Linked DNA regions of Homo sapiens. The gene in region 2 interacts genetically with the main gene of each other region. Each region holds a gene or a part of one and is shown on either strand. Other genes may lie near its edges. The genes, in order: TRAPPC10 and ARL5A.

Region 1 (3,823 bases), on a different chromosome or scaffold from region 2:
AAGCCTTTGATCTCTAAACACTCAGCATTTACTGCCTAAAAACACACGTGAAAGATAAACGGAAAAAGCAAGTTCAAGATTCATCCAGGCAGCGAGCCATAAACAGAAAAAGCAAGGTCCAGATGCAGGCACAAGCATGGCTCTTTTACAAAGGCACCAAGGTGTCGGGCACCATCGCTCTGGCACTGGCAGGCATCAGGCTCTGGGCAGAGTGGAGCAGTGCCCATGCAATCAACAGTGCGTTCAAACAGAAGCTTGGATCTGCACACGTCTACGCATAGAGTGGGACCAGTTTCAGATTTAATTCTTCTAAAAAGAAGAATTCATCCATCCAGCCACCCGCTTACTCAGGAGCAAGCCTCGATCCAGCCTCAGGGCAGCCGGAGGAGCTGCACAGGAGCCTTTACTCATCAGCAGTGCAGCTGTTCTATCTAAAGGCTCAGTCGCAACACATACTACATCATTTCCGTACACTCTGGTTCTCTGTTGAGAAGTTTATGCTCAGGTCTACACAATGTTTACCTGCTGGGACTGCGTGTTCAGTGGTACTAGTTGCAGGTCGGTACTATCACCGGTATCTACAAGATAACTATCTGACAGCTGAAAGTCAAGTTCTGACAAATTCTGGACACAAACTTGAACATATTTCCTAAAGTGGAAAAACAAAAAGTATTATTTTGATATGTAAGAACTTTATTAAATATATCTTAGCTTTGTTAAGGAGACCCTCTCTGCCTGGGGAATCAAAAAAGCAACAAAGCAAAGTAAGCTAAGTTGTTGCATAAGTTTCCCTTCAGATTTCACACCGAAAAGTGCCAGAAAATAAACCTTTTTGGCCGGGCACGGTGGCTCACGCCTGTAATCCCAGCACTTTGGGAGGCCGAGGTGGGCAGATTATGAGGTCAGGAGATTGAGACCATCCTGGCCAACATGGTGAAACCCCATCTCTACTAAAAATATAAAAATTAGCCAGACGTGGTGGCACGTGTCTGTAATCCCAGCTGCTCGGGAGGCTGAGGCACGAGCATTGCTTGAACCTGGGAGGTGGAGGTTGCAGTGAGCTGAGATCACGCCACTGCACTCCAGCCTGGTGACAGGGCGAGACTCCATCTCAAAAAAATAACAAATAAAAATAAATAAAAAAAGTTTTTAAAGAGGCAAGTTCTGTGAGGCAATGGAAGAAAGAATATAGTTTCTGACCAGCCTTATTAAGTGATCATGGCTGGTCACCCTCACTGGCCTTTGGGGAGCCACGGGGAGACAGCAGCAGCCCTCCTCATTACAGGTGAAGACTCTCCATTGAGAGATGATAGGCGGGGCTTATATCCATTTCCATTACATGCAAAACTTTGAAAATATTAATAATAGTTACTATTTTTTGAGACAGAGTCTTGCTCTTGTCGCCCAGGCTGGGGTGCAATGGCACGATCTCAGCTCACTGCAACCTCTGCCTCCCAGGTTCAAGTGATTCTCCTGCCTCAGCCTCCCGAGTAGCTGGGATTACAGGCGCCCGCCACCATGCCCGGCTAATTTTTGTATTTTTAGTAGAGACGGGGTTTCACTATGTTGGTCAGGCTGGTCTTGAACTCCCGACCTCGTGATCCGCCTGCCTCGGCCTCCCAAAGTGCTGGGATTACAGGCATGAGCCACCACGCCCGGCTGAAAAATAATTTTTTAATAAGGTTCTTTTAGAGATTATTGATGTTTTTAACTATTAATATCTACAGTTCCCTTTGCTGTGATTTGAAGGGGAAAAAAGCTGCTAGTATAATGTTCCATTCTAAACATGGGTCTGACGTTTTTGTTTCCAAATTATCCACACATCATCAATGGATAAAAAGTTGTGGTGAGAGGCCAGGCTAGCATCCCGAGCCCATTGATCAACGCTAGCACCGTCACTAAGGTAGGACACCTGGACACCGTGGGCCTCCCGGTGCAGTCAACAGGAAGCACACAGCCCCGCCTGCCTCAAAGCAGAACTGGAGTCTACTCAAGCCTTTAGGGCAGCTGTTTTCCACTGGGGCACGTCCGCCCCACCCAGAGGACACTGGGCAGTGTCTACAGACATCTGTGGCTGCCACACCTGCAGGTGGGGAGTGCTACTGGCATCTCATGGGAGAGCCTGGGGTGCTGCTCAACACCCTACAGCACACAGGAAAGCCCCTACAACAGAGTTATCTAGCCCAAAATGTCACTAATGCTGAGCTTAAAAGCTCCTGTTCTAGAGGTTGCAGGCAATTGACAAGAAATACAGGGACAGGAGAACTAGTTAACAAATCCAGCCAGATCCAGAAAGGCGGGCGTCCAGAGGAAACCTGGCCTGCAAGTGAACAAGTCGATGGCTTGAAAACAGGGAAGAAAGGATGAACAGAGATCTAGTGGTCTGATGGAGATTTTGGACCCCAAGTCACACAAAGCAACCATAAAAGGTCATTTTCAGACAGTTGGGAAAACCTGAATATGAACTGGATGTCACAGGACACCAGGGAATTGTGGATTTTAAGACACAAACAATGGCCTTGTGGTCACATAAGAAGACATCCTTGGTCACCACGAAGGCCAGTTTTGAACATTAGGAACCTCCACTTAGAAGAGTCTGGGGAAAGAAGCCAGGGCCCGCACGCTACGCCTCCGTTACCGTGTTCCTGAGGACAGGAGGCTGTGTGTGGTCCTGAAGGGTACGCTGAAGGTCAGTGCGATGACTGTGGAGTAGATGGACCACGGGCAGTCAATCGACACCTGAGGAGGAAGCACAAAGACACTCTCAGACCACTCGCCGACGGACAGCACAGCCACCACCACTGCTGCCCAGACTCACCTGCAGTGCCCGCCCACGCCCTAGACATTTTATTATGGCTTCAACCACTCATTATCCAGGAAGCAAAGCCTTACCCAACACATACACAAACCAACGAGAAACAGGAAGCTATGCATACAGACAAGAGAAACGAACGCAGAACTGGCAAGACATGCACACATCACCAGAGTCACCTCAACGGCGGAAGAGCACAGCCGTCCTCTAAGCAGCAGACCCACCTGCTGCTCCCATACACGCAGGGCCGCGGAGCCATGCATGTTGCAATGTGCACAGGGTTTTGACAAAGTGCTTTCAGTCATGTATTTCCAGATGACATTAGCCAATCAGTAACTACTCCATAGTTAATGAATTATCTAAGCATTTAATCCATGTGAGGCTGAATATGTAACTGAAAACCAAATCAGTTTAGGGGCACAGTGAGGACAAAGCTATTACATCCCTTAAGGGCAGGAAGGAAGCAAGTCTCAAGCCTTATTCCCCACAGGGAAGAGGTGAATACCCCAGCACACAGCGTGCGTGCCGCCAGTGCCAGGGAAGAGAGGATAACACGGCACATAGCACAGGTGCCACCAGCGCCAGGGAAGAGAGGATAACACAGCACACAGCACAGGTGCCACCAGCGCCAGGGAAGAGAGGATAACACGGCACATAGCACAGGTGCCACCAGCGCCAGGGAAGAGAGGATAACACGGCACATAGCACAGGTGCCACCAGCGCCAGGGAAGAGCGGGGTAACACGGCACACAGCACAGGTGCCGCCAGTGCCAGGGAAAAGAGGATAACACGGCACACAGCACAGGTGCCGCCAGCGCCAGAGAAGAGTGGGATAACACGGCACACAGCACAGGTGCCGCCAGCGCCAGGGAAGAGAGGATAACACGGCACATAGCACAGGTGCCGCCAGTGTCAGGGAAGAGTGGGATAACATGGCACACAGCACAGGTGCCGCCAGCGCCAGGGAAGAGTGGGATAACACGGCACACAGCACAGGTGCCACCAGCGCCA
Region 2 (3,386 bases):
GGTTCAACATCTAAATGATATGACACAAAATTACCACTATGAGAATCAAGAGGCTACTCTTATGCAAGCAACAAACTTTTACTTATGATTTCAAACATACAGTTTAATTTTCTGTTAAAACTGTTTTAAAAAACAGTACTAGGGTTCAGTTTTCTAGTCTCGGCATGAACTAATGCCAGGGACCTATTTGAATTAGGAAAGAGACAAAATGGTGTGATTCGTGCTTCATTACATCATGGTTTGTTGAGGGTTAGGTGAATATCTTCCATTTCAAGACTTTTTATTTAGGCCAGGCGCGGTGGCTCACACCTGTAATCCCACCACTTTAGGAGGTTGAGGCGGGCAGATTACGAGGTCAGGAGATTGAGACCATCCTGGCTAACACGGTGAAACCCCATCTCTACTAAAAATACAAAACATTAGCCGGGCGTAGTGGCAGGCGCCTGCAGTCCCAGCTACTTGTGAGGCTGAGGCAGGACAACCGGCGTGAACCCAGGAGGCAGAGGTTGCAGTGAGCCGAGATCGCGCCACTGCACTCCAGCCTGGACGACAAAGTGAGACTCTGTCTAAAAAAAAAAAAAAAAAAAAAAAAAAGACTTTGTATTCAAATAAAGCACAAATTGTGACAGAAATCCTCTAGGCTGTGTCATCAGTTAAGACAAGCCATACGATACCATAGAAAATACATATAATTTATTAGATGGGCTTAAAATCAACACAAATCCATTTTTAGGCACTTCTTGAGTACAGACTATGGGAATTTTCTACCAAAGAACAGGATATCTAGCAAGCAACAGCATAAAGATTTAAACTTTAGTTTTCAGAACAATACACAAGGGCTAGACATTGATAAGAAATACTGCATAACTAATCCAAGTGTATCCTGGAACATTTCTTCACAATCTGACAGGACTTTAGGGTTAACTAGAAAGTTACTTTTTAGCATCCAAAATTGTAATTTCTGGCTTTCTTTCCTTTTTACTCTATTATCATGGTCTTAAAATAATCTATCGCACATTCTTTGAGGGAGCATGATATACAAGTTTTATTTTTGTGTAAGTGGAGCTTCAAAGACATATTTCTCTATCTGCATTTACAGTCAATGCATGACAAGTGATTATTTCGATGTCTTTAAAGCCCATTTCAACAGGTTTATTTTTTAAGGATAGGCTTTTCATTACTAACTCCTTTAGACATCTAATGTTTATCTCTGTTTTGTAAGTAAACATGAAAAAAAAAATGGGATGTGGGCAATAGTTTCAAGAATGCCCTTAGATTATAGACTACATATAAATTTGGTTTGGCATCTTTTTCCAAATCAAACTGAACTGGTATTCTGTGAAACATAACCATTCTTGGTAGTGGGAAGATAATACACATAAAACTTAATCCTGCCCATGCCTAACTAGTAGCTCACGGAAGTGGTAGAGTCTGGGTATTTCTCCTATCTTTCTGAATCTACTTCCCAACATGTGAAGTTAAATTAAGAAGCATGAAAATGTTAAATATAATTTAAAGAATTCTAATATTGGCATCTATATGCTATACACACTGCAAGCTGGTCTTCTGATGGACTCCACATCTCTGATAATGCTCTCTAATGAGCAAAGTCCAAATCACTACCTCAAGCCAGTGGTGAGAAGATAGCAAGGAACTAGAAAAGCTACATAGAAACCACTGGTTTGGAAACCATTGTCTATAACAATAGTTACAAAGAAAGTTTAGAATAACCTCCAGGACAGAGATCTCTTCACTAATAGTAAATGAAGATACAGGAGAGCAAAGGATACCTGAGCTATGGGGAAGCTGACCTTGAAAGCAATGAGGTCCAGATTACATTTGGAGAGTGGGAGAGGTCAAAGTTACGAGGAGAAACTTGTCTCTACCCAGCCTTGAAAAAGTGATTGATGACAACATACAACTGGGCAGTTGAGAGAAGACTGGAGTTTGGAGATAACCGATGATGTGGTATTATCTCCTGTATACAAAGCAGAGCCTATTACACGTACATTCCCAAAAATGCCTCCAGAGAAAACTAGAAAGTTGTCTATAGATTTTCTATTTACACTAATATAAACAGGTTTGGAGGTTGTCTGTACTGTATGTGGTTGCTGTAGTGACAAGAAATGTAAAGTGCCTATACAAGAGGGAACAATAGAGTCCTATTTCTAGGCATCTTAATACTATATGCTGAGACAAAAAGGAAAACAATGTCAGGGACTTCATGCCTTTGCTCAAGCTCTGTGCATTTCTCTGGGTCTCAAATGACCTACTAGGCACTTTTTAAAGGCCAGAAAATAAAAACTCTTCTTCCCTCTATTTCATCCCATGCTTCTAAAGTCACTTTCACTGCCTATATTAAAAATGCCAGCCATCAGTGCTAAAGCACTTTTATATTCTTAAGGCAAAATGTCACATAAGAAAATGAATCCCCTATCCACTTCCCCACTATAACCCCTATACAACCTGCCTTCGTTGTATCCTTTGCCCATTATGAGGACCAAGAGGTACTGGGAAGATAAAGAGAACTGAAAATTTCAAACAAGAACCCTCTATATAATGTGTAAGATGTACTTTTACAGATGCTATTATGATAAAATTAAACATATTCAAATGCTTATAGCATATGGTTACTTTTGCCCAGATATCAAAAGAAGTTACATGACTTTCAAAATTAGTATCAAAAACAGGATATTTAAATCCAGCCACATGTACAGAACTATGAATCTTTGTTCTTCTCAGAGCTGAACACAATGACTCCACGAGATGTTTTCACTCAGAAGTGGCATATTAAAAACCCAAAAGCATCTCCCTCTGCTTAATTCCACTTAAACTACATAAAAATTGCCAATATGACTTTTCACCAGCTTCTCCATTTTATTTGAAAATAATACTTTTAAAATGATTTTGACATTTTCATATATAAATTTATTTTTTTCCCAACTATAATTTTGGTTTTATGTACAAGTACACAAGTACCACCTTATTTTTAATGTTTACCTTGAAGGGTAGAAAACAAAATCATGTTTTATAAATGTGGTATAAAATTACACATCTTCTCATGATGTCATGTCAATAATCCACTACACTAAACCAACTGTAACAAGGTAGTACATGCTTTAAACATCCAATTAAGAATAAATCTGAGCCAACACCTTGATGATGACAAGGGAATGTGCTGATATCGTGTTAAACTGATGTGGCAGTAATCCAAGGGACTAAGCACATGATTATTCAAATTAAAACATAAAAAGGACAAAAGGTGTGGATTTTCTGGGCTACATCACATAATATTTGTCTGGCGAAACCATAATACAGATTTGGGTAAAGGAGATTTTTAATAGATAACAAGTAATTCTTTATAGGGATTTGAGAAAGTACGAGAA

Evidence for each region.
Region 1: changes in ARL5A (region 2) and TRAPPC10 together harm fitness more than expected from each alone (negative genetic interaction), as found in Homo sapiens cells (one large-scale study listed by BioGRID).

The regions. Positions count from the first base shown.
Region 1 is NC_000021.9:44,088,749-44,092,571, reverse strand, and holds part of TRAPPC10 (trafficking protein particle complex subunit 10), read right to left. Parts: intron 2,740-3,823; coding exon 2,639-2,739; intron 650-2,638; coding exon 523-649; intron 1-522. UniProt on the Homo sapiens protein: Specific subunit of the TRAPP (transport protein particle) II complex, a highly conserved vesicle tethering complex that functions in late Golgi trafficking as a membrane tether.
Region 2 is NC_000002.12:151,798,126-151,801,511, forward strand, and holds the end of ARL5A (ADP-ribosylation factor-like protein 5A), read right to left. Parts: 3' UTR 672-3,386; downstream 1-671. UniProt on the Homo sapiens protein: Lacks ADP-ribosylation enhancing activity.